Regions from separate parts of the Homo sapiens genome. Here regions 1, 2 and 3 are each reported to be linked to region 4. Evidence: microRNA targets listed by miRTarBase, many of them from high-throughput screens and not tested one by one. Region 4 holds a microRNA gene; each other region holds the end of a gene's coding sequence.

Evidence for each region. Region 4 holds the annotated microRNA hsa-miR-155-5p (UUAAUGCUAAUCGUGAUAGGGGUU, at 3,537-3,560, shown strand). A microRNA usually pairs through its seed, bases 2 to 8, with sites in the 3' UTR of a target mRNA and lowers its output. Matches are read on the target gene's strand: a 7mer-m8 pairs with bases 2 to 8, a 7mer-A1 pairs with bases 2 to 7 and ends in A, and an 8mer does both.
Region 1: the mRNA of HTRA1 is a reported target of hsa-miR-155-5p. The part of its 3' UTR that is shown has no 7-base or 8-base seed match.
Region 2: the mRNA of EXOC7 is a reported target of hsa-miR-155-5p. The part of its 3' UTR that is shown has no 7-base or 8-base seed match.
Region 3: miRTarBase lists HDHD5 as a target of hsa-miR-155-5p. The part of its 3' UTR that is shown has no 7-base or 8-base seed match.

What each region holds. Positions count from the first base shown.
Region 1 is chr10:122,512,248-122,519,553 of GRCh38, reverse strand. It overlaps HTRA1 (HtrA serine peptidase 1), which reads right to left. Exons shown (of 9, transcript NM_002775.5): 9 at 4,647-5,363. The coding sequence ends at 5,195. Among named protein-coding and RNA genes, the nearest start is that of DMBT1, 45 kb to the left of the region's middle.
Region 2 is chr17:76,080,668-76,087,973 of GRCh38, forward strand. EXOC7 (exocyst complex component 7) reads right to left here. Exons shown (of 19, transcript NM_001013839.4): 12 at 6,987-7,053; 13 at 5,413-5,478; 14 at 5,010-5,130; 15 at 4,647-4,742; 16 at 3,850-3,913; 17 at 3,581-3,622; 18 at 3,339-3,472; 19 at 349-3,083. The coding sequence ends at 2,981. It overlaps ZACN (zinc activated ion channel), which reads left to right. Exons shown (of 9, transcript NM_180990.4): 6 at 611-735; 7 at 878-1,088; 8 at 1,215-1,382; 9 at 1,796-2,139. The coding sequence ends at 1,986. Among named protein-coding and RNA genes, the nearest start is that of ZACN, 5.1 kb to the left of the region's middle. RefSeq lists an enhancer at 1-342 and a silencer at 427-627.
Region 3 is chr22:17,135,487-17,142,025 of GRCh38, reverse strand. It overlaps HDHD5 (haloacid dehalogenase like hydrolase domain containing 5), which reads left to right. Exons shown (of 8, transcript NM_033070.3): 6 at 793-967; 7 at 3,288-3,476; 8 at 3,669-4,506. The coding sequence ends at 4,005. Among named protein-coding and RNA genes, the nearest start is that of LINC01664, 17 kb to the right of the region's middle. RefSeq lists enhancers at 2,974-3,680, 3,681-4,388.
Region 4 is chr21:25,570,447-25,577,752 of GRCh38, forward strand. MIR155 (microRNA 155) reads left to right here and starts at 3,534; the gene lies at 3,534-3,598. It overlaps MIR155HG (MIR155 host gene), which reads left to right. Exons shown (of 3, transcript NR_001458.3): 3 at 3,447-4,722. RefSeq lists a silencer at 3,478-3,657 and enhancers at 5,209-5,358, 5,751-5,800.

The DNA of each region.
Region 1 (7,306 bases), not on the chromosome of region 4:
GCACAGTCCTGGGTGCACTGTGGTTATGCAAAAAGATGGATTCCATGAAAGAATGCGTGCTAAGAGGATTCTTTCCTCCAGTGGCAGATGTGACTGTCCAGGGAGGTGTGGGCCCACCTCAGTTGTCAGCTAATCCGTATTGATTGACACCTGCTTTGCAGGCTGGGCTCAGCCCTATGGCCTCAATGATGGACTTGGCCCTGTGGAGCTGCAGCCCCAGAGTGAGTCCCGACAAGGGAACAGGCAGTTAGGACAGCACATGGCCAGCGTGCGAGCTCCTGGCAGGGGAGTCCGGTGGGGCAGATGGTGAAGAGATGGGGAGGAGCTTCCATGCACGGGGCAGGGAGGGTACTAGGATTTAGGTGTGGAGACAGGAGAAAGAACAGCCTGTTCAAGGAATGGAAGTGAATTCCACATGACAGAACATTGAGAGCAGGAGAGGAATGGAGAGGTGAGAGTGGAAGGAAAGTGGGGACCAAGTCAGGAAGGGGCTCAGATGTCCCAGAAAGGTGTTTAGTCTTGTTCCAGGGAGGCTGGGGATGAGGCAAGCCGGAGTTGTGTGCTCCTGACCTGTCCCAGACATGGGAGCACTTGTCTCCTCTGGTCAGATACACCAGGCCAGGGACTTGGGGCCCCCACTCTCCCCACTCTCCTCCCTACTTCCCCACAAAGACATGTCCTACCCCCGCCAGAGACAAGCTGAGTGGCCTTGGGCAAGTTACTTAATCTCTCTGAGCCTTCATTCCTTCGTCTATAAAATGGTATAATAATAGTTTCTATTCCTTGGTGTTACTGAGGGGACTAAGTGAGATAGATATGTGTGTAAAATGCTTGTACTGTGCTTGCCACAGAAAGCCTTAGCGACAGCGCCTGCTGCCACCTTCCACACCCTGCACGCCACATCCACACTCATTCTACGGTAGCATTTACTATGTGACACTGCCATTTCTATTGTTAACATCACTCCTCTCCCCTGGATGACATGACGCCCCCTCTCACCGGTTTCCCTTTACCACGGCAAGGAAGCCTCCAGTGCCCACCTGTTGGGCTCCAGAATGCTAATCAATGCACGCACCTGTCCCAGCTGGTCCAGGGCAGCAGTGAGCAGGGCTCCAAGGCTAGAACGCTCACAAAGGTCACCAAAAACACGTGTCTCTAAATGGGAATGGCTCTCCAAGAGAGATCTGATTGTCCTCTTGCCTCAAGGATAGAAAAGAGTCCCATCTCCTGAGGAAGTTACCCTGGAGGTGGGCGCAGTGCAGCAAAAAGCAGCCCCCAGGGCAGCCCGCCTATTCCCACGAGCCTGCTCCAGACTCCTCAGCCTCGGCTACTCCCCGGACTCAACCAGGGAGCTGACGCCGGACACACACCCAGAGCAGGGACCTCATCAGAAGGTCAGGGAACTGAGAGGGAGACCCAGACAGCAGGTCTCCATTTTTTTTTTTTTTTTGACAGGGTCTTTCTCTGTCACCCAGGCTAGAGTGCAATGGTGAGATCGCAGCTCATAGCAGCCTTGACTTCCCAGGCTCAAGTGATCCTCCCACCTAAGCCTCCCAAGTAGCTGGGACCACAGGCACACACCACCACACCTGGCTAATTTTTGTATTTTTTGTAGAGGCAGGGTTTCACCATGATGCCCAGGCTGGTCTTGAACTCCTTGATCCACCTGCCTCAGCCTCTCAAAGTGCTGGGATTACAGGCATGAGCCACCACGCCCGGCCACAGGTCTCTTTTAAGCTCCTTCACACTGAGCCTCACAATCTGCCTCAGCCCAGTGCTCTAGATGGTTCCCACCAATGGATCAGCGTTGGCAGGATGGATGGCAGAAACCTACCTGCCCTCCCGGCACTGAGCCACTCTGACTCTGTCATACCTCTGACCTTACCTATAACCACCTTCAGGGGTGCAAACTTGAACTGGACTGGCCCATTCACCCAGATATATGTCCACACAACCTCAGCGAGGCCTGGCGCTGACTTCAGTGGTATTTGCTGAAATGGGCCAAGCATCCTTGCCAGCCCATGGAAATGCTATCATCCAAGGTTCAGACCTGTCTAAAATATTAACCAGGTGGAGACAATCACTGTGCAGGTTCTGATAACAACATGTGCTGCTCCTCACCACGCCCACCAGACAGGAGCATTCTTCCAAATTTTCAGATGGAGAAATGGAGTCAGAAAAGACAAGACCCCCCAGGCATGGTGGCTCCTGCCTTTGGGAGGCCGAGGTGGGCAGATCGCTTGAGCTCTGGAGTTTGAGACCAGCATGGGCAACACGACGAGACCCTACCTCTACCAAAATTACAAAAATCAGCAGGGCATGACAGTGCATGCTGTAGTCCTAGCTACCCTGGAGGCTGAGGTGGGAGGATCACGTGAGTCCGGGAGGTCGTGACTGCAGTGAGCCATGATCAAACCACTGCACTCTAGCCTGAGCAACAGAACGAGACCCTGTCAAAAAAAAAAAAAAAAAAAGACAGAGGACCTCCCTGTAGAGAGCTGCCCATCTCAGATTCACTCAGCCAAGCCTGAAAGACACAGCAAGGAGACCCCTGCACACCAGGGCCTCTCTGCTGGCCAGTGCATCAAGAGAAGCATCTGGCAGGGCGGGATGGGGATAGTCACGTGATGCAGATGTGCTGGGGAAGCCCAGCCATGTGGTTGGCTCACAGTTTTGCAGAAGCTGGAAGCAGAGGACTAGAGCTGAGGGTGCTGGGATTGGAAGAGGCACTGCTGAGCCCACATTTGGTAAGCAGGAAGTTCTCCAGGAGCCAGAACAGGGGGCAGGTGCGGGCCCACCAGCCAGAGGGCTGTTAAAGTGACCTTGGAGGGACCAGAAGTGGCCAAGAAGAATTAGAAACTGAGCTCCATGGAAGCAGAGATGGACCCAACTGAGGGCATTCTACAGATGAAAAACAGACAGAGAGGTTAAGGGACTTGCTCAAGGTCACACAGCCAGTAAGATATATAGACACTGGATTTAAACCCAAATCCATCTATAACTCCAAAAGCCATGCTCTTTCGACTCAGTGCTCTGCCTCCAGGCTTTAAGACTAATTTATGTTGCAAAACCCTGCATCACAGCCTAAAGCAAGCAGAAGAAACAACTATTCTGGAGGTCTTCAAATGTGAGGTGGGGGTTCCAGGACAAGCAGCCCCCATGGGACACAGGGTCTCATGGGTAAGTGCAACCATGTAACCAAACATGTCATATGCAACAATGTGGCAAGCTGCCATTTCTGTCCTGTATGTGACCATATATGCAGGCAAAACTCCAACCCCATCCAGTGTCCTGCAGAGATGTTGCAGAGTGTTTACAGAGGCCTCAGGCTGGTCCATCACCAGGCTAGTTTCTTCCAGAAGAACCATCAGTGATCTCCCGGATGCCTAACAGGCTGAAGACAGACAGGCTCGGGCCGGGGCTGGGTCTGACCTCAATGCCACCCACGGCATCCTCCCCACCTGTGGCAGCACCTCAGCTCCGGGGACCACACAGGAAAGCAGGCCCACATACAAAACATCTGAGAATGAACCCCTGAAGCCACAAGCCATTCTGAGTCATCACCTTTAATGGAGAAGGGAGGGAATGCAAAACACACTCCCACAGCCAAAGGACTCGCTGGTTCCTTCCTGACTCTACTAGGTCATTCAACCAGAGAGCGAAGAGACGTGCCAGTGTTGCAACGGGCCACAAGCTGCTCAGCCGCCGAGCACCAACACTGATGAGGGCTGTGCTCAACTGGACCGCCCCTGCATTTAAGTTGGCCCTTCGGCCTTCCGCAGCCTCCCCAGTTATGAGTTGGACCTTATGCCTCTGTGGATGGAGGAAGGATTCAGCTCTCAATTGGGAGAACAGAACCTCCATCCGGTCCAAGGCCCTCCTTTTAACTGCTGACAGTTGGAAAGCTTTGACCCGCTGCTCTTGGCATAAACAGCATACTCTCTGGTGTGTGCTCCCCACAGGGACATAGGTCTGTGCAAACTTCCAAGCTAAAGCTGTGCAAGTCCTCTTGGGTCAGCTTCCCAAACTTTCGGAAAGCTTTCATGGAGATAAAGGTGCCTACAGCTGCTTCTAGCTGTACCTGTTTGAGGGCACTTCAAGGGGAGTCCTCCTCTAAACTCACCAAGGCTTAAGGCCTAGTTCTTATTTCACAACCCAGGACAAATGAGGTCAGCTGCAGCCGTGTGCATTCTGGGCCCATTCTGGGGTTGCATCCTGGTCTCCTGAGCTGTCTCCCTTTCAGAAAGAGACTTGGCTTCTGAACTGAAGCTCTACAGAGGGAGAGCCTGCGTCTTTCCTGCTCTCACTGACCACGCACTTACAATGCCTGGCACAGAGCAGAGACCCAGAAAATCTTTGTTGACTAATTGCATGCTGTATGAGGTCAACAGACTCTCTTTCATTTGACAAGCTCCGGATGCGAGTGCAACTGTCCTCAAGTCCTGCTTCATAAAGCCAGGGTGTCCAAGCAGAGTTGTTCATAACCCTGGTAAATCCCATGGGATGATTTTGAAATAACTCATAAGACTAAGAGCTCAAACCTGCGTGGACAATGCAGTCTAATGAGGGGCCCACTGACATTAGAATCATTCCAAAAAGACTGCAACAAGCTGCTCTTGGGAAAGGAAAATAAGCACTACAGAAAGCAATGTGTAAGAAGTACTTTAATAGCTCAAACTCAGAGTCATCGTGCTCCCAATTCCAAAGAGATTCCTAAAAGAGGCAACTTCGGCCGTTTGAGAAGCCAGCGCTCACCCACCCGGGGTCTCTGTGCATTGACCTTTGGGTGCTGACTTGGAGAAAAGCACAAACACGACCAGTCCCATCCTGGCTCCCGTGGGGCTTCTTCTATCTACGCATTGTATCGACTGCATTAGTTGGACTAAGATGATGACTCAGTTAAAGGAGGAGACAAATGCTGACTGTCTAAGCAAGAATGGCCCAAGCTGGCAAGAAAAAGCACACTGCATACATAGGATACAGAAGGGCAGAGCTTCTGCCTGCGGATCTGCAACATTACATTTGTTTTGCCTGCAAACTATCAAGAAGGATTCTGTTGGCCAGGGAGTCTCCACTGAACAAACAAAATGGCAGTCAAAAGTCTTGAGTGTCCTATTCCAGCAGCCCAGAGTCCTCATCCGTCATCCACGGGAGAGTCTTTGAGGGAAACATGAAGTCCAGCTCATGCCTCTGCCTATGGGTCAATTTCTTCGGGAATCACTGTGATCATGATATCTTCATTACCCCTGCGGACCACCATGTTCAGGGTGCTTTCCCTTTTAATGACGTCGCTGACATCATTGGCGGAGACCACGGACTGTCCATTGATGCTGATTATGACGTCGTTTTCCTTGAGACCACCACTGCAACACAAAGGGAAACACAATGGCAATGTTTCGTGTTTCCATTCCTCCTGGTCTGACTTTACATGGACAGAGGCACAGCTTAGAACCTAAAAGCCCAGAGCAAACAGGATTGGACGGTGGCGAACTTAGAATAATTCAAACCATCAGTGGGTCAGGCACGGTGGCTCATGCCTGTAATCCCAGCACTTTGGGAGGCTGAGGCAGGTGGATCACCTGAGGTCAGGAGTTCAAGACCAGCCTGGCCAACATGGTGAAGCCCCGTCTCTACTAAAATTACAAAAAAAAAAAAAAAAAGAGCCAGGTTTGGTGGTGGGCACCTGTAATCCCAGCTACTCAGAGGCTGAGGCAAGAGATTCACTTGAACCCAGGAGGTGGAGGTTGCAGTGAGCCAAGATTGTGCCACTGCACTCCAGCCTGGGTGACAGAGTGGGATTCCATCTCAAAAAAAATAAAATAAAATAAAAAATAAACCATCGGTAGATTGGATTACTTTTTAAGGTTTTTTTTTTTAATAATGTTCTTTTTTCCCCACTCTTTTTTTTTTTTTTTTTTTTTTTTTGAGATGGGGTCTCAATTGTTGCCCAAGCTAGTCTCGAACTCCTGGGCTCAAGGGATCCTTCTGCTTCAGCCTCCTGAGTAGCTGGGATTACATGCATGTGCCAGGATGCTGGGCTCCTTTTGAGATTTTTAGGCTAAATCATCCATTGTGTCCACTGTAGAAATGCCTACTAACACTTGTGTGGCTTTATGACCCCAAGGAGATCAAAGGTCAAGATTGACCCCAAAGTGGGGAAGGATGTACCAGGTACTATCTGCCACGTAGTTGGCCAGATATCTGCCAGATAGTTGGCCACTATCTGGCCAACTTGCTTATAATGGGTATTGCAACTCAGAATGCAGTTCCTATAGGGGTGGGCGGAATGTTTCTGTTAAGAGGCACTTCCTTTGTGTGGTTGCCACTATAACTGTAGCTCTTATATAGCTCAGCGTCAAAACGCTGTCATGGTCCTTCATGGGCTAGCACAAGGGTCTGCAAACTTTTTCTGTAAAGGGCTCCATAGGAAATATTTTAGGCTTTGCAGTACATATGGTCTCTGTTGAAGCTACTCAACTCTGCTGTTCCAGCACAAAAGCCACCATAGATGTCATAAACCAAATTACAGTGGACACTGAAATTTGAATTTCATACAAATTTAACATGTCACAAAATACTATTCTTATTTCAGGATTTTTTCAACCATTTAAATGTTCTCATAAGTGGGAACTAAGCTACGAGGACACAAAGGCATAAGAATGATACAATGGACTCTGGGGACTCAAGGGGAAAGGCTGGGACAGGGATGAGGGATAAAAGACTACAAATTGGGTTCAGTGTACACTGCTTGGGTGATGGGTGCACCAAAACCTCACAAATCACCACCAAAGAACTTACTCATGTAACCAAATACCACCTGTTCCCCCAAAAACCTATGAAAATAAAAAATAAGTAAAAATAAAAATAAAATGCAAAAACTATTCTTAGCCCACAGCTCCATATAAAAGCAGGCAGTGGGCCAGATCCAGCCCCCAAGGCACATTTGCTGGTCCCTGGTCTCGCACTTTTCTCTGGATATTCCGCCAATACAGGTAACAAACCCTGATGGATGGTTGAGCTACTTCTTGTCATGTTACTTTGATATCACTTGGGTTATTTTTCTGGAGGTGTTGACAGGTATGGGCCTAATTGTCAGAGACATTCTGGAAGACTCCAGGAAGAGAAGGGTCCTGAAGCCTAGAAAAGGACCACCAAGTGAGGGCTTGGGGACACTGTTCCTGAAACCCTCTCTCTGGCCAGCCGGGCCATCTCAGAGACTCATTACGAGTCTGCTATTGCTCTGTCCATCTGGAGGGTCCTCGTGGAGCAAGGACTTTTGAAGACAGAAGGCACCCTCCTATGGATG
Region 2 (7,306 bases), not on the chromosome of region 4:
GGGCCCCTCTCTAGGGTGACAGACTCAAACATTCGCAGCAGCTCTGCAATCCCAGAGGTCCGAGCACATCAGTCTTCTGTCCTCCCCAGAGCAACTGCCCTCCACAGCCATGGCGACTGCAGTGGCTCGGCCCCTTGCAGCAAGGCCAGAGGCTCAGGTTGCCATGGCCTCACTCCTGGAAACCACCTGAAGGTGCAGCCACCCTGTATAAACCCATCAGGTGACATCTAACTTGGCAGAGAAGTCCTACCCTTCCCTCCATGAGAGACCACAGCGGTAGCCCTGGGGATCCTGCTTCAGCTGTGAGATGATAGACTGACGAGCCTGTGACCACTTCTCCCTCCATCATGAAGTGGTGCAAAGTACATTTATTTTTACAATGAAAGCTCATCTATGAATCTGATAAAGGCCTTCCTTCAACTGGAGACAATTTGGGATGTTGCAAAACAAGGTTTGGGAAGCCCTTCTATGGATCGGTTTTGTGTCCAAGTCTGTCCCTGCCAAAAGCCATCAAAAGTCTCCATCACCCCTGGGCTCCAGTCTGCTACCCCCAGACTTGGCAGCTGGGATCTCTCCTTCCTGGTTCATAGTTCTCATTCCCACCCCTCAGCGATGGAGTTAGAGTTCCAGGCCCACGTGGTGAACGAGATTGTGAGTGTCAAGAGGGAATACGTAGTTTATGATCTGAAGACCCAAGTCCCACCCCAGCAGCTGGTGCCCTGCTTCCAGGTGACGGTGAGTCAAGTCGGGAGGAGGCCGACAGAGGGCTGCTGGAGGCGGGTGGGAGTGAGGATGCACGGCCAGAGGCCAGGCCCCATGCCCCCGATGCCCACCTCCTTCCCCCCCGCCGGGAAGGCCCTGACTTTTCCCCTTCCAGCTGAGGCTGAAGAACACGGCGCTCAAGTCCATCATCGCTCTCTTGGTGCCTGCAGAGGCACTGCTGTTGGCTGACGTGTGCGGGGGGTTGCTGCCCCTCCGGGCCATTGAGCGCATAGGCTACAAGGTGACATTGCTGCTGAGTTACCTCGTCCTCCACTCCTCCCTGGTGCAGGCCCTGCCCAGCTCCTCCTCCTGCAACCCACTGCTCAGTAAGCCCTGCTCCCTTACCCAGTCTGCCCTGTTTCTCCCCGGTCACCCACTGGTGCTCAGCTCGCTGGGCACCAGAGACACAGGGACTGGCCCCTGAGCATCTCCCTGTGCCCTGCCTCCCCCAGTTTACTACTTCACCATCCTGCTGCTGCTGCTCTTCCTCAGCACCATAGAGACTGTGCTGCTGGCTGGGCTGCTGGCCCGGGGCAACCTTGGGGCCAAGAGCGGCCCCAGCCCAGCCCCGAGAGGGGAACAGCGAGAGCACGGCAACCCAGGGCCTCATCCTGCTGAAGGTGGGCAGGGGCTGGGGGGTAAGGAATGAGGCCTAGGTGCACACCTAGGGCTGGGGTGAGGGCACGGAGGTCCAGGTGTGGGTAGAGGCCCCTTGCATCCACCCTGCTGGCTCTCCTGTCCCTGGTCTCCACCATGTCCTCCTCCCTTAGAAGAAACAGGTCTGGGGCAGGGAGCAAGCTGAGCCTCCCTGAAGTCCCAGGTGACCTCAATCCCCTGATAACCCATGCCTTGCACAGCCTAAGAGGGTGTTTCTTCAACTGAAGATGGCCTGAAATGGGCCAGACCCAAATTTTCATCAGCTGAGAATCTAAGAAAGGAAGCGATACAGGCTGATGACCCCTGGGGTTCGCTCTTCCGCTCATGTTGAGGGGACCTTGAAGAACAGCTCCTTTCCCTGTATCTCTCCCCACAGAGCCCTCCAGAGGAGTAAAGGGGTCACAGAGAAGCTGGCCTGAGACTGCTGACCGCATCTTCTTCCTCGTGTATGTGGTTGGGGTGCTGTGCACCCAATTCGTCTTTGCAGGAATCTGGATGTGGGCAGCGTGCAAGTCTGACGCAGCCCCTGGAGAGGCTGCACCCCATGGCAGGCGGCCTAGACTGTAAAGGGGCAGGGCCTGGGCTGCACACCTTAGGATGAAGTTTGCTTTCCCATGGCTGGGGGCGGGCCATGACAGGGCCTCTGGATTAAGCCACCCTGAGCTCTCCCTCCGCTAGCACACAAGCACAGAGCGTGAAATAAACCCATCTCCAGTGCAAGTGTGCCTCAAGGGTCAGTCTTCAATCTCGTCCTAAATAGGTGGGGCCCTATTTTTTGCTTCCAACCCCCATTTTGCTCCTTAACTTTTCCCCATTGTCCCTGTCTCCCAGCCCACAGGCAGGCAGCCTAATTGCTCCTTCTGCAACCACGACTGCCTGGCCCTGGGCCAAGAGGCACTGAGGCTGGGGGCCAGAGACAGGGGCCTGAGGAAGGCTGTAGAGGGTGGGGCGGAACTCCTCCTCCGAACGCCTCCTGCAGTGTGCTGGACTCTAGGGAAAATGGCCAGTGAGCCTGCCTCCCCCAGCCACCTAGGGGACTCCTGGGAGGGAAAGGTCCCAGACCTCAGGCCTGTGGGCGGGCGGGAATGTGTTTTAAGAGAGGGGGTCAGTCCCGACTGCCTTTCCTCCAGGAGCTCTGGCTGCTTCTCTGAGCCCTGCCACATCTCTGGGCTGTAGGGGAGTTCTCTGTCCCCACCTCTGACCTAGGCTGGAGGGAGGGCCCTTCTGCCCTGCTGCTCTTGGTACACATGGAGCAGCAGTGGGCACAGGCCTCTGTCTTCCTTCTCTCTTTTCCTGTTTCAGAAGCCATCAGGGTCATAAAAGCCAAGGTGTGGAGGGACCCCAGGCTTCCGGGAGAGTGCTGGTTCGGCTGGGAACACGGGCTGTGGGGAAAAAGCAGGAGCCAGGACTAGGGGGCTCAGGGACACAGCTCCCGGAGGCGTGGAGACAGGTCTCTGTCCCAGAGGACTTCAAGCTCACCCAGCCCAGAGGCAAGCTAACACTGGTTTATCTGTCCAATGACACGCCAGTCTGGTGGAACCAGGCAGGGCTAGCAGCAGGCTCAGGCAGAGGTGTCGAAAAGGCGATCGATCATGTCGCCCACCTGCTCCACCCCGTACTTGATGTACTTCTCCGGGTTCTTGGTGAAGGGCACGCTGCCAAACCTGAGGAGGCACTGTGGTCAGGGGACAGGGAGGGCCGACCCCTCCCCAGCTCCACCCTCAGCCTAAGGCACTCCTGATAGTCTTGGAAGGGGTGGCCCTGAGCGATTCCCTGTCTGGCCCCGCCCCAAAGCCCAGGTCGCTGGATCTGCTGCCTAAATCCACCACCCTTCTCCTTTTTCCCTTGAGGAAGAGGAGCTTGAAGAGGCCCACTGGGGCTGTGGGCAGCACAGGCTGGGAGGGGAATGGAGGCCTCACTTCTGTAGAAAGGCCCCGTAGGTCTCCTTGACAATGGTCTTCTGGGCCTGGCGAATCCTGTCCCTCTGCTCTGTGTCTGGAATAGCCCAGGCCTTCTGGATTTTGCACAGTTCTTCGAGGCCATCATTGAAGCCCTGGCCACCAAAAAGGTGAAAAAGGAAGGCACCCAGAGACAAACATTTTGGGTCTGTGTTGCCTCAACAGCAGCAGCAAGCAGTGGAGGGGAGAGGACCCCGACTCACCTTAAAACGCTCCTTGATAATCTGCCGCTCCTTGTCCCGGAGCTGGGAAGCCAGGAGAGATAGCAGAGAAAGCTCACTTCAGAGCAGAGCAGCCTTCCCCCACTCTTCCCCAAACACCCTTGGTCTGGGCCTGTCTCCTGTGTCCTGATGGCCACATGCATCCTTTGCTCTCTGATCCCAGAGGGATGCTTGTCCACTTTTTCCCAGAGACACGACAAAAAGTATCCCGTCTGCCAGACACCCCTTCCCAGCCCAGGTCTTGAGCCCACCTTGACTCCCGGCTGGAACACAGGTAGATTCTTCTCTGCGATGTAATCAGTCACCTTTAACCAGCTGCCAGACAGAAAGAGAAGCATGAGGGCAGAGGGTGGCCTGCCTCAGTGGCCTGGCTTGTTTCGTTTGCTAAATCTCTGGATCTACTTGGTGGGTGGTGGTAGGAAGGGATGTGGGTCACAACTAAGCAAACAACAGGTTTTCTTCCTGGGAAGAGAAAATCTTTAAACTGGTCACTTTTTGAGATAACATTAGGAAACACTTGAGTGTTCAATAAATTGGACAAATACTGTCAACTATACTTCACATCAATATCGTGGCAAACTAAGATGGAGAAACAGATGAGAAAGAAAGGAGTGGAGGGCAGATAAATGAGAAGGAAGAGGTAGACACATTCAAAGGGAAGAAACAAAGCCAGGAAGAAAGAGGACCAGAGAAGCAGCGGGATCCTCACAGAGCAAGGCTCAGCCACGTTCAAGTGCTCTCGCGACCTTGCTCTTCTCCTAGGTAAACATTACCCACGTCTCTGAGAGCCAGCTCTTCAATCATTCTTAGCCTTGACACTTGGCAGACTCCCCTCTAAAGTGGCCATAGTGGGCCCCTAGGAGCAGGTAGTGGTAGAGGAGGGGGCTTCTCTCTCCACCCCGTGAGTTTGATTAGAAACCAAGTGGAGGATTAGGGTCCAGAGGACAGGAGTTCCCCGTGACCGACTCTGTGTCCTGAGGTGCTGAGAAGGAAGAGTGCGTGGTGGCACAGGGGCCCATGCAGGAGCAGGGCGGGCCCAGCCTCTCACCTGCGCTGGTAGGTCTGGATCTGCTGCTCAATGTGCTCCCGGTAGGAGCGCTCAGCAGTCTTCTGTGTCACTGCCACCAGCTGGATCAGTTCAGACCTGGGTCGGGGTAGGGGACAGAGGAGAGGAGGACAGGATTGGCTCCTCAGGCCCAAAGGCTGCGGCAATGCCGGGAGGGCCTCCCATTGCACCCCAAACTCCACAAGCTCTATGGCATCCCACCTTCCGGGTCCTGGGGTGGAGGAGACTGAAGCACCCCCTCCCCTCTCGTCCACAAGAGAAGGAGCCCAGGGGGGCAGGGGCTGGCACAGCTGCACAGCCGAGGGGAAGGTGAGAGCCGCAGACTCACTCCCGCAGGCCACTTACTTCTCCAGGGACTTGAGGATGTAATTGTAGTTGTTGTGCAGGAAGATGGCGCTCAGAGCTGGGTCCTCGTACACCTTGGACTTGCTCAGCAAGTTCAACTGCAGGTTGCCCAGCACTTTACCTGCACAGGGAAAAATGGGGCCACACCCACCATGGCAGTCTGACCCAAACGACCCCACCCCAGGACCCGCGAACGCGCTCCTATCCATCGCTCCTCGTCCTGCCTCAGGAGGCCTTAGCCCAACTCCCCTCAGCCTCTGAACTAGAGGTCAGGTTGTGGTTCCAAAGATCAGATGGCACTTAGGAGAGGGCCCTGGGAATAGCCAGAGAGCACAGACAGAAGGAAGGGAAAGGCAGGGCATGCAGGCAGCAGGGCTGCTGGTCTGCCCGGGAGAACACTCACAGATATAGGTGCTTAGCAGCCGCTTGCTGAACTCAGAGCTGTAGCTGGTGGCCGAAGAGCTGGTCTCTGTGAGAGGAGAAGTCCTGTTATTGCAGTGGCAGCAGCCAAGACCCTCAACGGCCCTTCCCCCAGGCCATGCAGCAGTCTGAGGGGACACTGAGACAGGCCCTGGGCTTCCTTGGGCAGAGCTGGCTGCCTGCTAAGCCACAGGGTGGCCCCTGCCGCAGGAAGCACCAGCCCTGGAGTTTTTGGAACCCAGAGCTGCCCTCTATGATGGGATGGAGCTGGCCCATGTCAGCAGAAAAGCTGGCAGGAAAAGAGTGAGATGCCAGCGCCCTGTCCCCTCCTGCCCCCACCCACCCTGGGTGGTTTCTACAAGGCCCCCTTTTTCCTTTTGTCAACAGCAGAGTCTTAGAATGGGCTCCCCACAGCCTCTCCACCTTCTCCCCTACATTCGAACATCCCCTCTACCAGACCCTACTGAACAGACGAAGCTGCGGCCTGCACAGTGGGGAAGGCCGAGTGGGGACAGCAAGGCAGGGAGGCCGGGCGAGCCTAGGGGGTGTATCCAGGGCTCTAGCCTGGGCAGGTGCTGCGGATAAGCTCAGAGACAGAGTGGCCTTGAAGGGAGCAGAGAGAGTTGAGAGCACCCCGAGAAAACTCATGTCCCCTCTGACTCAGGCTCCCCAGTAGGTACTGAGAGTCAGTCCCCAGGGAACCTCACCCACCAAGCTTCAGAGGGACAGGAGGGGGCTGCAGAACCGCACTGCTTACCTCGGGGGTCTAAAGGAATATTGTATGTGTCCCCAAGAACTACGGAGTGAAAGGCAGTGCACACAGAGGGGACAGAGGGAGAGACAAAGGAGGGAGAAAGATGCAAAGTGCAAAAAACAGGTTAGAAACGGCATGTCAACCCGAATTAAGCAGACCTCTCCCCACGACAGCCAAAACACAGATAGCAAGACACAGCAGGCGGGACCCTCTGAGGACCAGGGAACACCCTGGAAAGTAGAGAGCTGAGAACTGCAGGCTGGAGGCTGCCCACAGGCTCCTTGCCCCCAAAATGGGACGGGAGGAGAGGGCCCAGGGACCTCAGTGCTTGGAATGACCCAGAAAGGTGCTCTTGCTTACAGGCCAACCCCCTGAGCTCCAGTCCCAGGGCAGGGCCAGCAGGAAGACGCCCAGCGGGCCCTGAGACACTTGCTACCCTCTGAAGGCCAGCTGAGCGAGCCTGATTAGGAGAGCAGGCAGACACGAGAGAAGGATTTGGGAGGGGGGCAGGGGCAGAAAGGACACCTTCCAACCAACCAGCACCGCTCCCAGAGTGAGGACACTGCTTCCAGGGCGAGGACGGTCAAAGGGGCTGAGGGAGGGGCCAGAGGTCCAGTGTCTGGTCTTGAAAGGTGCAGGCAAACCTTGCTCTCCTGATGCTCAGCCCCAGGGACCCTCTGCTGAGCACACCTCAACCCCTCCACAGACTGGAGATACCTCCTCACTGCTACCTGCCCTCTAACCCCATGTCTCCAGGCAAGGAGGCGAGTGGGGCAGGGGGCCCAACTGGGAGGTACCAGTACCTTGGGAGGCCAGCATGGCGCCTGCCGTCTCCTGGAAGTCCAAAAGCTGCTGCAGGAAGAGGATGGCCTGGGTGGGAAGAAAACGGTGCAGAAGGGCAAGTGGCAGGCCCGGCCGACGGCCTCCCACAGCGACCCCTCTGAGTGCCCAGGGCCAGCCCAGGGCTGGGATCCGCCCAGTGAAGAGCGCGGCTGGAAACTTCATTTTCACTCTAGCCTGCCAGGAAAGGCCCTGTCTGCTAGAGACACTAAACATGTCACTGTCCATCCTGCCACCCAGGACTGCTCACAAAGGTGCGAGCGGCTCTGGGCCAGGCTGAGTC
Region 3 (6,539 bases), not on the chromosome of region 4:
TATGTAGCGTCCCTGGCCCCCTCCCACAACCTTCACTTGCTAGGTTCTAGTCATTGTGACAACTAAAATTGCCTCTGATTTGTAAAGCACCTCAGCAGGGGCGGTGCTGCCCCATGGAGAATCACTGGTCTGGTGCAGTTCACCGGCCCTGTACCTTAGTGTCAGCAGTGTTCTTTGCCTAGTGCTTACTGTGTGTCTAGTCCTGGGCTGTTTACCGATGATGTAGCTCATTTTTATCCTCACAATAGCTAAGTGCTGTTGCTGTTATGTAGTTGCAGTTGAGGAAACTGAGGCTTAGAGAAGAGAAGTTACTTGGCCACAGTCATACAGGAGAATCGGTGGAGTCCAGGTTGGGTTTCAAGTCTCTATCACTCCACACCCCCTGTCCTGGCTGTTAGGTTCTGCCAGTCCCTGGGGCTCAGAGAGAAGCGACTGAGGGAACAGGAGCCCTTGCTAAGTCATGTGAGGGAGAATGTGGTGGCAGAGTCCCAGCCAGCAAGGAGAAGTAGCCCTGAGACATGCTGCTTTTGTTTTGTAACCTCTTCTGTGAAGCACTGGTGGACTGAAGTCAGAATGGGAGCCCTCAGGAATCTCCTTCCTGGGCCCTGGGCCTTGTGCACCCAGGGTGGATGGGTAAGGGGCTCTACTGGGCTTGTTGGGGAGCTGTGCCCCTGCCCAGCTGGGTGCACCATGGGTGGAGGGCTTGTGGATGGGTAGCCCTAGCTGGCATCCTGAGGGCCTGCCGCCTGCCATCTGCCCTGCAGCCCTCACCTGCGCCTCTGTTCTTTAAAGGGGTGCTCCTCCTAGGGGAGCCGGTCCGCTGGGAGACCAGCCTGCAGCTGATCATGGATGTCCTCCTCAGCAATGGGAGCCCTGGGGCTGGCCTGGCAACACCCCCCTACCCCCACCTCCCCGTCCTAGCCAGCAACATGGATCTCCTGTGGATGGCTGAAGCCAAGATGCCCAGGTGAGGACACAAAGCTCCCAGCCTTGGCCTGGTGGTCTATTCCTGGCTGCTGCCTGGGCAGTCCTGCAGGCAGTTCCCATCCGTCCTGACACCCCAGGTGCCGGGACCTCACTTAGGTAGGCCCTGTTGTTGCTGCAGTAACCTGGCCTTTGGAAGGGCTTTCAAGGACCACTCCACATATTAGTTACTAAACCTAAACTACAGATTATGGAGTCTGAGGATGTATTGAGAGGATGTTTCACACGTGACCCCTGCCCCCTGTAATCTTTACAGAACATGCTCTTGGTGTCTGGTGGATCCCAAACCGTGGGCACTTTTTGTACCGTATCTGTGCACATTATTCAGTTGCTCTTCCTTCCTTGGCTCCATCCTGTAGCATTGGTTCTTTGACTTTCTGGTTTCCTTTTACCCTTCAGACATAAGGCAGGAGGAAGCAAGGATTTGTCGTTTTTTGTTTGTTTTGTTTTTTTTGCGGGGACAGTGTCTCACTCTCTCATCCAGGCTGGAGTGCAGTGGTGCAGTCATAGCTCACTGCAGCCTTGAACTCCTGGCCTCAAGTGACCCCCGTGCCTCAGCCTCCAAAAGTGCCGGGATTACAGGCGTGCTCCATCATGCCGGCCAAGGATTGTTCTGATAGTCGTATAGACCAGAGAACTGAGACCCAGCAGATAAGTGGCTTTCTCAGGGGCATGCAGGTGCCTATACTCCCTGCTCAGCTGTGTTGGTGTCATGTGTCCTGTCTTATTCTGGGGCTAGCACAGATAGAGGCAGCCCTTTTTTGGCCTCAGGGTGCTTACTTGAAGGCCAGCTGACAGCTGCTGTGTACTGTTCGGTTGCTGTTATCTGCATGGCCAGTCTCTTGAGTCTCAGCCTGCTGTTGACCCCCAGTCGACAGTGCTCGTCAGCAGAGGGTGGGCACGGCCCAGTACTGCCTCAGGGCCCGTCTCAGTAGTCCCAGAGAGACGGGGTATGGTATGCTCTTGTCACTTTTAAAGTGTATGTCTGTGGCTCGAGGCTTGGCATTGTCTCTGAAGTATTATTCCTAGAGGCGGGTATGCTGACACTAGATCAGTGGGCTTGGTTGGTTATGTCTCTGTGAACTGAAAAGCAAGGGGCAGATTTCAATTTACAAACCAGATTTTAGATGAACTTTTCTAATTAAAAGTAGAATTATTTACATAAATGACACTGAAAGATGTGGTGGCTCATGCTTGTAATCCCAACACTTCGGGAGGCCGAGGTGGGTGGATCACCTGAGGTCAGTTCAAGATCAGCCTGGCCAACATGGCAAAACCCCGTCTCTACTAAAAATATAAAAATTAGCCGGGCATGGTGGCAGGTGCCTGTAATCCCAGCTACTCGGAGGCTGAGGCAGGAGAATCACTTGAACCCAGGGGGTGGAGGTTGCAGTGAGCTGAGATTGTACCCAAGCGCCAGCCATCATATCAGCATTCCAGGTGTCAAGAAGGAGTTGGGGAGGGCAGAGAGGGCAGAGAAGAATACCGTCCCCAGTTTGTTTGTTTTTTTTTTTTAGATGGAGTCTTGCTCTTTTGCCCAGGCTGGAATGCAGTGGTGCAATCTTGGCCCGCTGCAACCTCCGCCTCCCGGGTTCAAGTGATTCTCCTGCCTCAGCCCCCCAAGTAGCTGGGACTACAGGCATGTGCCACCACACCCAGCTAATTTTTGCATTTTTGGTAGAGACAGGCTTTCACCATGTTGGCCAGACTGGTCTTGAACTCCTGACCTCAGGTGATCCACCTGCCTTGGCCTCCCAAAGTGCTAAGATTACAGGCATGAGCCACTGCGCCTGGCCGCCTGTCCCCAATTTTAAGGATGCTTATTGAAAATTTAGCCCAGCATTTCTGCTTTCCTTGACTGTAGCTTAGTCACATGGCCACGCCTCGCTGGCAGGGAGGCAAGCGAAGGTCTTTTTCACACCTAGTGGCAATATGGTCAGCTGAAAATGGACACCAGCAAAGAAGGGGAGAAGCGCAACCGTAGTCTGCCTCAGCTCTACAGCAGGATTTAAGCTCTGGAGTCAGACTGAGTTGTAATCCTAGCTCTGCCCTCTTGAACAAGTTACTTAATCTTGCTGTGCCTTGGTTTCCTCGTTTTACAAATAGCGTCATCTCATAGAGTTTTTCTGAGAGGGAAATGTGAAATGCTGCCTCCAGTGCCTGCACAGTGTCTGCTACATGTCAGCTCTTACCCTGGGGAAAAGGCTGGTCTGTGTGTTTGCTGCTTAGACAGTGGCAGTCGTGTTCTCTAGAAGAGCCTGGAGATCAGGAAGACTGAACTGCTGCGTGCTCGTTTCTGGCAGGTTTGGACATGGCACCTTTCTGCTGTGCCTGGAAACCATTTACCAGAAAGTGACGGGCAAGGAGCTGAGATACGAGGGCCTGATGGGCAAACCCAGCATCCTCACTTACCAGTATGCCGAGGACCTGATCAGGCGACAGGCGGAGAGGCGGGGCTGGGCCGCCCCCATCCGGAAGCTCTATGCTGTGGGGTAGGCTCTGCTCTCCCTCCTTTGTCCCTTTTATGACATCCCCTTCTCTCCCTCCTCCTCTACTCTCACCCCCATTTCCCTATATCTAATTCACTCTTCTGCCCCGAAACTCTTCTCTGCTCCCTTTGCTTTGCAACATTGATTTAGGGTTTTTTCTCCTTTTTCCTTTTCCGGTGTGGCTGCCCCTGCCAGTGATAACCCTATGTCTGACGTATACGGCGCCAACCTGTTCCACCAGTACCTGCAGAAGGCAACGCATGATGGGGCGCCAGAACTAGGGGCCGGGGGCACACGGCAGCAACAGCCCTCAGCAAGCCAGAGCTGCATCTCCATCCTGGTGTGTACAGGCGTCTACAATCCCAGGAACCCACAGTCCACGGAGCCTGTCCTTGGAGGAGGGGAGCCTCCATTCCACGGGCACCGAGACTTATGCTTCAGTCCAGGGCTCATGGAGGCCTCCCACGTGGTGAATGACGTGAATGAGGCTGTGCAGCTGGTCTTCCGCAAGGAGGGCTGGGCTTTGGAGTGAGGGCAGTGCGGTGGAGGTGAGGGGGTGAGCCTGGACCTGTGGGCGAGTCCCATTGGCTGGGCTCTGGCCTGATCACTGGGCTCAGGTCAGGGCTTGGTTCCCTTGCCACCCTTCTTGCTGCCCCATGAGTGTGGCATTACTGGTCACTTGGAAGAAGACAGTGACTCTTTTTCCCTGCTGGGTAGCATTTTGTATGGAACGGTTGGAATTTTCTGGGCCCAGTTCCCACGTGCCTTTCGTGGCAGTCTAACCTCAGGCCATTCTCTTCCCCTGTGTGCCTCAGTGTCCTTCTCATTTCAGTAGGGACTTCTGAAATGGGGGAGGCAGTGTGGAATACTGTGGATGTCTGTGCAGAGCCTTTGCCGGCACTGAAGGCATGCAGCCTGTCGGCAGAGTGTCTTAACACCAGATGCTACTTTTTACTGTATTGTAGTTTATTGCCCGGAGATGTGGGGCTTTTTTTTTAAATAAAATAATCATAATAAATGTTCATGATGCTGACTCTTGTGAAGCTCTGTCTGGAGTGCACTAAAAGTCCTGTGGGGAAAGGAGGAGTGAGTGGTGTGGGCGGCCCAGGGTCTGGGAGATGGGTGGCATTTCAGCTCCACGAGGTGCCCACATCTCCTTTCCTACCTCCCGCCCCCAAGTCCACACCCATTCTGGGCTGTGAAGCCTGAGGCTGTCTATGAATGAGTATGCCTGGCTTTGGCATATACTTAGCAACTTCCCTGGTGTGGAAAAGAAGAGGGATCTTGTTACTGGTTTGTTCTAAAGGAAGCAGCTCTTCCTGCAGTGATTCTAGAAAACATGCCGCTTCTTGCATCCCTTCCTCTAGGAGTAACCAACTTCATTTCTTCATTTGTCTGTGTCACCCATGGCCTCAGCATCTGCAAATCCCCCAGTCAGTTCTCGTCCTCATTTTACTCCAGTAGCTGTTTGTGTTTGACATAGCTGATGCCTCCCTCCCTTGTTCTTTTTTTATTTTTTAGAGACGGAGTCTTGCTCTGTCACCCAGGTTGGAGTGCAGTGGCACGATCATGGCTCACTTGAACCTCCCGGGTTCAAGCAATTCCACCTCAGCCTCCTGAGTACCTGGCACTAGAGGCACATGCCACCACGCCTGGCTAATGTTTTTTTTTTTTTTGGTAGAGACAGGGTTTCACCATGTTGGCCGGGCTTGTCTAAAACTCTTGGCCTCAAATGATCTGCCTGCCTTGGTGTCCCAAAGTGCTGGCATTACAGGTGTGAGCCTCCACGCCCGGCCTCCTTCCCTCATTCTTAAAGCCCTCTTGGCTCTCTCCACCTGACTACTCTTTTTTTTTTTTTTTTTTTTTTTTTGAGATGGAGTCTCACTCTGTCACCCAGGCTGGAGTGCAGTGGCATGATCTCGGCTCACTGCAGCCTCCACCTCCAGGTTCAAGCAATTTTTGTGCCTCAGCCTCCCGAGTAGCTGGGATTACAGGCGCCCGCCACCACGCCTGGCTAGCTAATTTTTGTATTTTTGGTAGAGACGGGGTTTCGCCACGTTGGCCAGGCTGGTCTCAAACTCCTGACCTCAAGTGATCCACCCTCCTTGGCCCCTCAAAGCGCTGGGATTACAGGCGTGAGCCACTGCTCCCGGCCTAACTGATTTCTTTTTTTTTTTTTTTTGAGACGGGAGTTTTGCTCTTGTTTACCAAGCTGGAGTGCAGTGGCATGATCTCGGCTCACTGCAGCCTCCACCTCCAGGTTCAAGCAATTTTTGTGCCTCAGCCTCCCGAGTAGCTGGGATTACAGGCGCCCGCCACCACGCCTGACTAGCTAATTTTTGTATTTTTGGTAGAGACGGGGTTTCGCCATGTTGGCCAGGCTGGTCTCAAACTCCTGACCTCAAGTGATCCACCCTCCTTGGCCCCTCAAAGCGCTGGGATTACAGGCGTGAGCCACTGCTCCCGGCCTAACTGATTTCTTTCTTTCTTTTTTTTTTTTTGAGACGGGAGTTTTGCTCTTGTTTACCAAGCTGGAGTGCAATGGCGTGATCTCGGCTCACTGCAACCTCCACCTCCCGGGTTCAAGCGATTCTCCTGCCTCAGCCTCCTGAGTAGCTGGCATTACAGGCACGTGCCACCACACCCAGCTAATTTGTTGTATTTTTAGTAGAAATGGGGTTTCACTGTTAGCCAGGCTGGTCTCAAACTCCTGGCCTCAGGTGATCCGCCTGCCTGACCTCCTGAAGTGCTGGGATTACAGGCATGAGCTACCGCGCCCGGCCCTCAGCTGATTTCTTGACACCTTTGCTTGGATGCCTCAGAGGTGTTTAGAGGTTAGGGAGCAAAGGAGGTTGAGAGAGTGGCTATGAAACAGGAGAGCCGGTGTCTTGGAGGCTGAGTGGCTGAGTGCTGAGGAGCTGTGCTCATTCCCTCGGTGTAAGTGTTGCTGTGTCCACGACCAGACACTGAGCGCAGTCCACACCTCCTGCTTAACTGTCTTCCCCAGCTTAGGTGGCTGCAGCAGCTCCTTCCTCTCCTTGTCTAGGCCGAGGGCCTGGCGTCCTG
Region 4 (7,306 bases):
ATATAAGATGACTTTCAGTAAAAATAGATGTACAGTTGATTTGTAACAACAAATTAATAGTTTTAAATTATTTGTATATTTCAAGGTAAATAAAATTAGAGCTATCCCACAATCGCTTTGGTTATGAAATTCGACCACTGTAACTTTTTTTAAAGAAAACTTTATGGTGTGCAGTTCCTTTGGTATGCAAATATTAAATGGTTGGTGCTGAGAATAAGCAGCAATATAGAAATATATATAATTGTAGAAGAATATAACCTATGATTTAGACATAAAATGAGATCCTTACAAGATAAAGAGTTATGGAGATGGATGATAATGATAGTTGTAGAACATTATGACTAAGTGTTTAATATAGCGGACCTGTACACTTAAAAATGGTGAAGATGTTAAACTTACATTATGTTTACATTACATATTTCACCACAATAAAAAATTTTTGAAGGAAAACCAGAACTTTAATGACAAACTTAGGACATATTATGCTCTGAATATATAGTTTTGATAACGTCTTTCCTGGCAAATCAACAAGGTAAGAATAAAAGGATATTCTGAAATCTTTTTTTTTCTTTGGAGACAGAGTCTTGCTCTGTTGCCCAGGCTGGAGTGCAGTGGCACAATCTCGGCTCACTACTACCTTCTGCCTCCCAGGTTCAAGTGATCCTCCTGCCTCAGCCTCCTGAGTAGCTGGGATTATAGGCGTGCGCCACCACGCCTAGCTAATTTTTTTGTATTTTTAGTAGAGACGGGGTTTTACCATGTTGGTCACGCTGGTCTCAAACTCCTGACCTCATGATCCGCCCACCTCGGCCTCCCAAAATGCTAGGATTACAGGCATGAGACACCACACCCAGCCAGATATTCTTAAATCTTATGCTCACACTCCACCCCCCCCAAAAAAATTGTCCTTCAGGAAAGCATAATTTAAGGAAAAATTTCCCAAAGTGCCACCTTCAGCTTCATTCTTAGCACCAGAGGAAGAATTGCCTGTCATATAATGAAAGATCCTTGGTGTTATCATTAATCTAGTATACATAGTGCTTCCTCTTGGTAGATTTTTACCTACTGTGAGAAGGAATGATTTTGATACTCAGACAGTGTGTAGTAATTTGTTAAGAACATTTAACTTGGAACCTATGCTACACAGTAAAACTTATACTGACAATGGATATTTCATGTGGTAGGCCTAAGAAGTATTGTGGAGTGAGGGGACTGGAAGTATATCTGCAGAACTACCTAGTCAAAGACCCCAGTCTAATTTCTAATATATAATTCATATAAATTACTCTTGCATTGCTATACATTAAACATTATGCTTGTCACATTCTTACTTGGTTAGCACTGTCACTACTGATTGTCAGGCCTATAATTGTGTATAATTCTTCCCCTGCCACTTTACCAGCTGGTGGCCACACCGATTCCAGAAAGAACTACTTTATTTCTTATTACCTCATGAAAGCACCCTCTGCCCAGTGCCTTGGCTAATAGACTGGCCTTTGTTGTCTATGACCACTAATTCCCACTCAGGCATATAGCAATTCTGTTGTTGGTTGCTTAGCCCAGTCAAAAACACTGGAAGTGGACATAGACTCCACACTGATGAATGAATGACCTTCTAGTCATTCTAATGTCCTTAAAAGTCTACTATTTTTAAATTGTAGAATATATATATATATATATATATTTTTTTTTTTTTCTGGGATATTTCTCCTTTCTTCTGTTCATTAATGTTTTTCATCTATCATTGTGTTTTAAATATGACCTAAGGTTCTATAGTATATTTAGACAAACTTCTCATTTCTCTGCAGTGTTCGGAATTCATCATGCCTGTATGACAAGGTTGTGTTTGAGAACAAAAGGGGACCTGTGTGACATGTTTTATTTCAATATACATTTAGAGTTTGAACAAATAAAAAAAGCTATTAGAATTTTTAATATATATAACACATTATCAAAAACACTGTCACTTTTCTGAGTGCTCTAATCAGGCAATTCGTATGTATATTTAAAAAGAGGGAAAAAGCTAATTAGTATACTAAATATATTTATTTTAATACCTGTGCTCATATGTTATCTTTAAAGAACAGGAATAAAATTTATGGGTAGAATAGTATGCCAGCAATTTACCTTCAATACAAATTAAACACATCTTTTAAGAAAAGGGCGAGTTATATTGGCTGGGGTGGCACTAACACTACATTATTAATATGTATTTATTGAGCATTTACTGTGTCCAGGACCCTGTAAGGGGGAAAAAAAGTCCTTGTTTTTACAATCTTTATTGACTGAAATTCTGTAAAATGAATTGAATTCCTGAAGTGACATCATTTAACCCAAATTTTTTCATCATCAACTAATTCATCTCAGAAAACAGTAAAGTTTAAAAAAAAATACTATCAGTAAGAATAATATATTTCCTTGGTTTGGAAATTTCCAAACCACGATATTCTGCCCTGTCAAAATATATTCACTGGGGAATTTTTTACTTCATACGTTTCTTTTGAACTTAGTCACATTTTTATATCTAGCTGGTTTCATTATTAAATAAAAGAAAAGGTGATTCCCCTCTTGTACTGCAGGAGACCACATACTTGAATGATACTCTAACTTCTAGGTTCTGTTATAGTAACACTGAAATCAGAAACCTGTGGGAGAAATGTCACTTTATCTGAGAGAGTAAAATCAGACTCTAAAAGGAAGTAGCAAATTCATCTTGTTCTTTTTTTTAATCAACCCTCTGCCTAAGACAAGTAGTTTGAAACACAGAGGACTCTTTAAGTCATACTTCCTTTATGTAGTCAAAACCAAAGCCACTGGGTAGTGCTTTCCCCAAAGGAATCTCTAAATAGTAGACGGGGACATTTTCAGATAGATTCGTTTGTAGGCAAACCTCCATTGCTTGTATCACATTTCCTGAAAGAATAAAGGTAAAACTTCAACTATGTATTACAGAAAGAAAAATTCAGCCTGAACCCTACCCTTATAAAACAGGTTAATTGGGTTTTAATTTTCATAAATCATAAAGGACTATTTTGAACATTTGGGCCTTTAATTGTCTAGCTCCTAGATGAAGTACAAATCAGAAAAAAAAAAAACTGTACTGTGTCAGAATGCAAGCTTTCCTCTTTGCATTTTGGCATTTGAAAACTCCGAAGAGCGGTTTTTGTTTTTTATTTAAAGAAGATGATACATATGTGTACCCGATTCAAAACTAGAGAATAGAATTTAAAACATAATTTTCAAAGTCTTCAAATATGCCTAAAGGTAACAATGTCATCTTTTAATTGCCAATTTCTCTACCACTTTCAAAAAATTACTTCCAAGGATTTAATGAGCTCCTTCCTTTCAACAGAAAATGGACTATTTTCCTTTCAGATTTACTATATGCTGTCACTCCAGCTTTATAACCGCATGTGCATACACAAACATTTCTTTCTCTCTTGCAGGTGGCACAAACCAGGAAGGGGAAATCTGTGGTTTAAATTCTTTATGCCTCATCCTCTGAGTGCTGAAGGCTTGCTGTAGGCTGTATGCTGTTAATGCTAATCGTGATAGGGGTTTTTGCCTCCAACTGACTCCTACATATTAGCATTAACAGTGTATGATGCCTGTTACTAGCATTCACATGGAACAAATTGCTGCCGTGGGAGGATGACAAAGAAGCATGAGTCACCCTGCTGGATAAACTTAGACTTCAGGCTTTATCATTTTTCAATCTGTTAATCATAATCTGGTCACTGGGATGTTCAACCTTAAACTAAGTTTTGAAAGTAAGGTTATTTAAAAGATTTATCAGTAGTATCCTAAATGCAAACATTTTCATTTAAATGTCAAGCCCATGTTTGTTTTTATCATTAACAGAAAATATATTCATGTCATTCTTAATTGCAGGTTTTGGCTTGTTCATTATAATGTTCATAAACACCTTTGATTCAACTGTTAGAAATGTGGGCTAAACACAAATTTCTATAATATTTTTGTAGTTAAAAATTAGAAGGACTACTAACCTCCAGTTATATCATGGATTGTCTGGCAACGTTTTTTAAAAGATTTAGAAACTGGTACTTTCCCCCAGGTAACGATTTTCTGTTCAGGCAACTTCAGTTTAAAATTAATACTTTTATTTGACTCTTAAAGGGAAACTGAAAGGCTATGAAGCTGAATTTTTTTAATGAAATATTTTTAACAGTTAGCAGGGTAAATAACATCTGACAGCTAATGAGATATTTTTTCCATACAAGATAAAAAGATTTAATCAAAAAATTTCATATTTGAAATGAAGTCCCAAATCTAGGTTCAAGTTCAATAGCTTAGCCACATAATACGGTTGTGCGAGCAGAGAATCTACCTTTCCACTTCTAAGCCTGTTTCTTCCTCCATATGGGGATAATACTTTACAAGGTTGTTGTGAGGCTTAGATGAGATAGAGAATTATTCCATAAGATAATCAAGTGCTACATTAATGTTATAGTTAGATTAATCCAAGAACTAGTCACCCTACTTTATTAGAGAAGAGAAAAGCTAATGATTTGATTTGCAGAATATTTAAGGTTTGGATTTCTATGCAGTTTTTCTAAATAACCATCACTTACAAATATGTAACCAAACGTAATTGTTAGTATATTTAATGTAAACTTGTTTTAACAACTCTTCTCAACATTTTGTCCAGGTTATTCACTGTAACCAAATAAATCTCATGAGTCTTTAGTTGATTTAAAATAATTTTTATGGCCCATTTTCTTTTGCAAAGTACAAATTATAATTCCAGAAGCTATCTGCCAAAAAAAGACAATGGAAGAAAATTATGAGGACACTAAAGGGAACATTCCTGACTCCTAGGACACAGTATTCTCATGTAAGAATACCCATTTGGCTTTGCCCCACTTTCTGTTCAAGTTGTATGTGCTGCCAAGACAAATTTCTTCTCCTCACTTTCTGTTCAAGTTGTATGTGCTGCCAACACAAATTTCTTCTCCTAACACCTGGAATGAGCTTGTGGCTCCACGGAGCTCCCATGTAGGTAGAACACATTCAAGAGTGTTTCTTCAGGCCAGGCACAGTGGCTCACGCCTATAATTCCAACACTTTGGGAGGCCAAGGCGGGTGGTTCACTTGAGGTCAGGAGTTCTACACTACCCTGGCCAACATAGTGAAACCTCGTCTCTACTAAAAATACAAAAATTAGCTAGGCATGGTGGTGCGTGCCTGTAATCCCAGATACTCAGGAGGCTGGGGCAGAAGAATCACTTGAACCCAGGAGGTGGAGTTCACAGTGAACGAAGATCGTGCCACTGCCCTCCAGCCTGGGTGACAGAGTGAGACTCCATCTCAAAAAAAAAAAAAAGTGTCTGTTCAATTCATTTTATCTGCCACTGTATATCTACAAGAGGACTCCTTGCTTTGAGTCCCAGTTCTTCAAAATCCTGCTTGCTGCCTAAAGACACAAAGTCATAGAACATTAGGACTGGAATAAACTATTGTAGTATAACCTTCCTGCTGTTACAATAAAAAGCTATAAACATTACAAAGGCACTTAAAGAAAAGCTGTGCTGGGAAATGCCTTATTTGAAGAGCATTTGGGTACACTCACATGAAGCTTTGGAAAGTTACTTAATCTTCCTCTAAGCCTCAATTTCTTCATCAATAAAATGATGAATATATTTCATATTTCATAAGATGTAGGCTTAAATGAAATCATGCATGTGAAAAGCACAATGTCTATTATGCATTAAGTGTTAAACACAAACTTTCAAACTTTTACATTTCAGTCATTTAAATCAAATGATCTACCATAGCAGATCTCCCCAAAGACACTCTAGCTCCAAACTAACTATAATCAATCCCGTGGTGACGACCCAAAGAACCAGGGTTCCTGGGTTTTCTCTCACGCCCAGCCCACCTAGGCTTCTGACTGCCTATCTCCTCATCTTAGAGGGATTCCTCCTGACCAGTCATTACAAAAATTCTTGGAGCATGAGCAAGACTGAGTCTGTGTTTGGATTGGAGGAAGGGGTAAGTAACAAGGTATATATATGTATATGTGTGTGTGTGTGTGTGTGTGTGTGTGTGTGTGTGTGCGCGCGCGTTTGTGTTTAAGTTACAAACTAAGGATGGTTTTAAAAAATTGCAAAATGTTAAGAGATTTATCTAGGATCTGACCCACTTCCCCAGAAATTTACGGAATTCAAGACCAAGCCTTTCGTATTCACTGTCATCAGTTAGATGGACCCAGTAGCTAAAAAATTAAGGAGAAAAAAAATAGAGGAATATGAGGGAAAAAGTCAAGTCAGAGGACTGAAGAATATATACAGAACATAGAATATTAGAAATTTTCTGAAAATAGATGATAGCAAATACCTCAAGAAAGTGAGGAAACGTGAAAAGGGAGCTTAAAGAAAAATAATAGAGTCCATACATGGGACACAAGCACAAAAAGCTGACTGAGCATGTGGTTCTCTACTAATAATAACTGGAAAACAGTGAAACCAGCAGGAAAAACTTGCACATAAGAGTTTAACTTTCCACTTTGGGTTTCAAATTCTCCCATAGCAATAAGAGTAAGTGAAATAATGTTCACATAAGGATTTTTTTTTTTTCTATTACTGTAGTGTTTTGTTTTGTTTTGTTTTGGTTTTGGTTTTTGGTGGTTTTTTTTTTTTTGAGACAAAGTCTCGCTCTTGTCCCCCAGTCTGGAGTGCAATGTCATGATCTTGGCTCACTGCAACCTCCGCCTCCCGGGTTCAAGTGATTCTCCTGCCTCAGCCTCCCAAGTGGCTGGGATTACAGGTGCGTACCACCACGCCCAGCTAATTTTTTGTATTTTAAGCAGAGACGGGGTTTCACCATGTTGGCCAGGCTGGTCTCGAACTCCTGACCTCAGGTGATCCATCCATCTCAGCCTCCCAAAGTGCTGGGATTACAGGTGTGAGCCACCGCACCCGGCCTGTTACTGTAGTGTTTTAACAAATCTAAGTGTAATAGTATTAGTCTTCATTCATCTAAGACATACAAGTACTGGAATTTTTTAGGTGGGTTCCTCAAATGTCATCACAGTGGTGTCTTCTCTACATTCAGTCACTCTTCCGCCCTTCTCTGTAATGCTCAGGGATTTCCCAGTTCACTAGCACTTAACATAGTATGTCCTTACTTACTTTGGGGTATAAATGACTGCAATAGAAGAAGTGATATCCTTGAGGGATGAAACACGATCTTGCATATTCATATCCCTTTCAAATGTTTACTGACTTAATCACACCATTAGTTTTCTAAGTCCAAGTCTAAAAACAGAAATGAGTTTAAATACAGT